2 separate regions of the Homo sapiens genome follow, and region 2 is linked to region 1. A link means that fine-mapping ties the variant in region 1 to the expression of a gene that starts in the linked region. Tissue or cell type: whole blood. Region 1 holds a variant in brackets; the other region holds the start of a gene. All regions are shown on one strand. Distances are between the middles of the regions.

Region 1 (2,682 bases):
CTTTTCCATAAAAATGCAATTAGAGGTATCTGTCATAAAAGATATATTTGTATTTCTTAGATTGTTTACCAAAATCAGAAATTCTGTGGACATCTGCTTTTCTTTTCAGCTGCCTGAGATTGTGTTATTGTGATAGATTTAGCTTTTGTTTTATTGTTAAAATAATTTTGAGCACAGGAGTAAAATGGAGATCATCTGCCTTTTAACTCCAAATTAGGATTTCTTTACTTTAGAGCAGGGGTTGGCAGACTACAGTTAGCGGGCCAAATCACCACCTGGTTTTATAAATAAAGTTTTATTGGAATAGAACCATGCTCATTTGTTGGTATATCCTCAGCTTTCATGCTTCTATGGCACAGTTAAGTAATTGTGACCAAAACAATATGGCCCACAGAGCTGAAAATATTTGCTATCTGGCCCTTTGCAAAAAAAGCCAACCCTGCTTTAGAGTTCTGCTTACTGTATTAATTACCTATTTCTGAGTAACAGATGACCTCAAAACCCAGGGGCTTAAAAGAACGTATACTCTTATCTCACAGTTTCTGTGGTCAGGGACATGAGTACAGCTTAGCGGGGTCCCATGGCCCTCACAGGACACAGGACTGCAGTCAAGGTGTTGGCCAAGGCTGATGTCATCTTAAGGTTCAACTGAAGGTGGACCTGCTTCCACGTTCACACAGGCAGTTGATGGTGGGATTCAGTTCTTCACGGACTGTTGGACGGAGGGCCCAAGCTCCTCCTTGCTGGCTGTGGCCAGAGGTCTGTCATGGTTCCTCTCCACAGAGCGGGTCACAGCTTGGCAGTTGGCTCCCCCAGAATGAGCAAACAAGAGGGCAAGGAGGAAGCAGGACGGAAGTCACTGTTTCTTACTATCTAATCTGGGAAGTGGCATCCCATCAATGTTGTAGTATTCTGCTCATTCGAAGTGTGGTCCAGCCCACACTCCAGGAGAGAGAACCGCGCAAGGGCATAAATACCAAGAGGTGGGCACCACTGGGAGCTTGGAAGTCTGCACCACACACAAATAGGTAGACCAGTTTGTAAGCTCCAGAATCAAAAGGTAAAAACCAGTAAATAGCCTCTAGTTGTATTGCAATTTCATCCCTTCACAGCCTGAGCTTTTTTGCATCTTCCTTTCTGTCTTGTGGCAGCCATGCTAATATACATTATTCCAAGCCTGTATCAGTCCCTTCCAGAATGGTTTACCAAGGAGTTTTGGGCTTCAATTTATACGGAAAACAGGGATCTTGGCAGCCCTAAGAGGCCAGAAGAAACTTGACATCCCAGAGTCAAGGAGTTTTAGATAATTTTTTAGTCCCAGGAATACAAAAACTAGCTCTATTGAGTTCTCTTGGAATTACACGCATTCGGATTTGTAAAACAGTAAGATGTCTTGAATATGATTGGTTAACCTCTTCTACAGAAATCCTTTTTGGCTAACCCATTATTAACTGAGCTTACATATTTTAGGGTAATTTTTAGAATAATCTTAAGTGAATACTTAAAAGTTCTTTTTTAATTAGATCAAGTTACAT[A/G]GCGTTTTCCCCACATTTAGGGCGTGAATAAAATAAATCTGTATTATCCTTTCTTATCACAAAGAAAGAGTTGGGCAGTCAAATTGACTACCTCATTCCTGTGTCAACACAGTCTTCCAACACCAGCGTGATGGGCCAATTCTATTTTCAGGGTCACTCATTGAGAACCTAAATTTTAAAATGAAATGCTTTTTAATTTTCACAGTGGTCCTAGAGTCAACCTACTAAGAGATACTCAGTGAGGGAGCATGGATGCCACATTATTGGTGACTCTTGAGCCTGTGAGGAGACAGTGGTTAGAAGCTTTGCAGGCGCGGCTACTCTACTCACTATCCTTCCCACTGATGCTGTTTGGGAAAAAGGAAGGAGCCTGTATCTATATTTTTTTTCTTCTTCAATGTTTTTATTGAAGTATAGCATGCATATAGACAGACAGTCTTTAAAATGAACTTTAAAAGGTGGGCATTGATCTTGGGGTTGCAAACTAGTAGTATGTTGTGAAACTATAGGCTTCCAGCTGGGCAAAACCTTTATAATCTTTCAAAAGCCTACCCCCACACCCCTGCAAATAGCAGATTTACATTAAATAGTAACATTCTCTTTTTAGAGGCAACACGTTCTTTTTTTTCTCCCCCTGGTATCTCATACTAAAATTATTTCTTATAATGAGCTTATGTAGTTTCTGGTTTTTGGAAGCTGCTCAGGATGACCTCTTCAAGTGAATGTGTTTATCTCCCTGGATCTTGCCTTCTGCGGTTGGATGGCTTGCAAGCCACACAGCCATGCTATGCCATCTCTCCAGTCACTGCTTCCAGTGGAAGATGATGCCCAGAAATGCCGCCTGTTCATGGTTGGCCTGAGCAGGGACTCTTGTTGCTGAATAATCATTAGATTCTGTACTTCTTTGGTTTCTCCCCCCTCTAACACTTAAACCCCATGGACTGGACAGCAGCCACTGCAGGATTGAGGGCTAAAACCCAAGAAAGCCGTGAGCCTGGCACAGTTGGGTCTCAGTGTCTGTTAACCAGAGAAATGATGGCGTCTGTGGCCATTCTCGTTTCTGGCTTTGGCTTTATCAAGGGTAGGGAGAGGCAGAGAGGTGTGGCGTCCTGAGGCCACGTTCTGCCATTAGGCAGGTGCAGATTAT
Region 2 (2,682 bases), 200 kb before region 1:
TTGGAGACAACAGCCATGCGCACCAAGAAGCTCAACCTAAGATGAAAAGGGCATCTAAGAGGCGCGAGATGGCTCGTGAAGGTAACAGACGTCTTAAGAATTTTTCCGGGCCCAGCACAGTGGCTCACGCCTGTGATCCCAGCACTCTGGAAGGCCGAGGAAGGCGGACTGCTTGAGCCCAGGAGTTCGAGACCTGCTCGGCCAACATAGTGAGACAGCGTTTCTTAAAAGAAAAAGAAAAATTGGCGTGGCGTGGTGGCGGGTGCCTGTAGTCCCAGACCGCACCACTGCACTCCAGCCTGGGCGGCAGAACCAGACCCTGTCTCAAAAATAAATAAATAATTAAAAAATAAAGAAAAGAAAAAAAAGAATTCTTCCTCGAGAGAGGAAGCCGGCTACTGGATATTCTAAAGAGCAGTCTGTTTGCCCCTGCCTTCTCCATCCAGAGTCACCGACGCTTTCTGCACACGAGGTGTTCCGCGCCAATGTGGGCACAAGCCAAGGCAAGAGGACTCCATCAAGCTCCTCCTGGGTACCATGATTTGGAAGACCCAAGGATGAGTTCAGCGGGCCACCATCCTCAAGGAAGCACCATCAAGAACTGAGTCAGGCCCGGGGTATTCTCGACGTCAAAGCGGTCGAGAGGTGGGGGTGCCACCAGGAAGAGTCACTGGAACGGACCTTCCGCGCTCGTCTCGCGGTCTGTATGCGCACTCACACCCCTGGAAGGCTCTACCACTGTAGGACAGAGCACGGAGGATTGCCCAGGCGCCGGAGAAGAGGTTAGCGCCCCGCAACTCCGCCCCTGCCCCGCCCACGCAACGCGGCGGCTGCGCGGCGAGGCCGCCCCGTCTCCACGTGATTGCCGACACCGCCTCCGCGAAGCAGAAGCCGCCATCATAAGTCCTGGCAGCTGGACCTGGGCCTGCCTCCCTCCTTCTCCTGCGCCAGGTAGCGGTAACGGGCTGGGGTTGTTCTGTCCTGGTTCTGTCTGGCCGTGAAGCCGCAGGCCTCCGAGAGCGGGACGAGGAGGTGGGGCCCAGGGGGCTCCGGGGCGGACAGACTGACCGCCGGACAGCCCAGGTGTCGGCACAGCGTGGGCGGTGCCCAGAGCCGCGCCCCGCCCCTCGCAGGCCAGCGCTCAGGGCTCGCGGGCCGTGCCCGTTTCCAGTATGGCCGCCCGCCGCGCCTGACCCGCGGCCTCTCCGCTCCGACTGCTTGTAGGCGATGCCCAGGCAAAGACCGTGACTGACACTCTCGCTCACACGCACGCACGGACCCAGGCCCACGCTCGGAGATCGAGCCCCGGGCTCGCAACCGTTGTCGCTCCCGGCGCCGCGGCCAGAGCCCGGACCACGGCTTCCGCGCCGCCGCCGCCTCGCCGAGAAGGGCCGCGCCGGACCTCGAGCGCGGCGGCCCCCGGCCGGCAGGGATGGGGAAGCGGGCGGGAGGAGGAGCAACCGGAGCCACCACCGCCGCCGTCTCCACGTCCGCCGGGGCCGGGCTGGAACCTGCGGCCGCCCGTAGCGGGGGCCCGCGGAGCGCGGCCGCCGGCCTCCTAGGCGCGCTGCACCTGGTGATGACCCTCGTAGTGGCTGCGGCGCGGGCCGAGAAGGAAGGTGGGTGTCCCCCGGCGGCGTCCCTGCGGCGGGGCTGTCACCCCGCTCTCGCGGAGGCCGGGAGGGCTGGGCCGGGAGGAAGGGCCGCGGCCGGGGCTCCGGCGCAAAGTTGGGCGGTCGGGTACCGTCCCGAGCCGGGACCTCGCGGCGCCCGCCGCACGGAGTGGCCTTCGCTCTCCGTGATTCCTTCCCGTGCCTTCCCCCGTCTCCTGTCACTGCCATTTCAAAACTTCCTGACTTCTCGTACGTTCTTGCCACTTGGCCCGCTAGGTAGGAGGGGCATATTTTTTGGCTTTATTGCGGCGAATAGGTACATTTTAGGACACTTCTGTTTTCTTGGTTGCGGTTGGTTGCATGCAGACAGAGCTTACTTTAAAATGTGGTAAAAATAGCGAGACACAGCTTAAAAAATTTCACTTTGAATTTGTTCAGACATTTCTTCGAGGGGAAATCTTGGTCCTGTAGCTTCCTCCTTTAGTGTCTCTGCGTTATTGATAACTTTATTATTAGACCTAAATACAATTCCATTTAACTCTTTAGTAAGCTGTTGAAAGCCTGTTTACATTTCTTATTTTAAAATACGTGATTCGGTGCCTTTATCTTTGATGTGAAAGCCTTTAAAAATAAACGTGAAGTTGCCAGCTTGCAAGCATTTATCTATAATTTACAGTTAAGGGCTGGCCCCTATTTTAAAAATCTCATTAGTATTGTACTGCTGCAAAACGGGTACTTGGACAGGGTCAAAAATTATTTTGTAATCTTGAAGACCAAATCAGTGTAATTTCATCTACACTACCTCTTTTTGAGCCAAGGGACATGTGAATGGTCACAGAGCCTTCATGAAGAATTGACTAAGTGAATAGTTTAAAAAAAAAACAAACCACGCAAAACTTGTTAGTTTAGCATTGCACATGAAACTGCCTGTACAAGAAAACAATTTCTTGCCACGGTAATTTTAGAGTTAACATTCTACTTTATGACTAAAGTCACTTGCTTTTTATTGTTGCTGAAGGTGAAAGCAAATACAAACCAAATTAGTATTAAAGTGCAAATGTGCTTCAGT

Evidence for each region. PIP is the estimated chance that this variant, and not a neighbour inherited with it, causes the effect.
Region 2: it holds the start of TMEM131, and the variant in region 1 is fine-mapped to the expression of TMEM131 in whole blood (TOPMed, PIP 0.97).

What each region holds. Positions count from the first base shown.
Region 1 is chr2:97,789,559-97,792,240 of GRCh38, reverse strand. The region is part of intron 31 of TMEM131 (transmembrane protein 131); the gene reads left to right. Among named protein-coding and RNA genes, the nearest start is that of ZAP70, 77 kb to the right of the region's middle. The variant A/G (reference allele first, on the strand shown) is at 1,536.
Region 2 is chr2:97,994,413-97,997,094 of GRCh38, reverse strand. TMEM131 (transmembrane protein 131) reads left to right here and starts at 1,147. Exons shown (of 41, transcript NM_015348.2): 1 at 1,147-1,619. The coding sequence starts at 1,433. RefSeq lists enhancers at 438-717, 888-1,401 and silencers at 938-1,187, 1,298-1,857.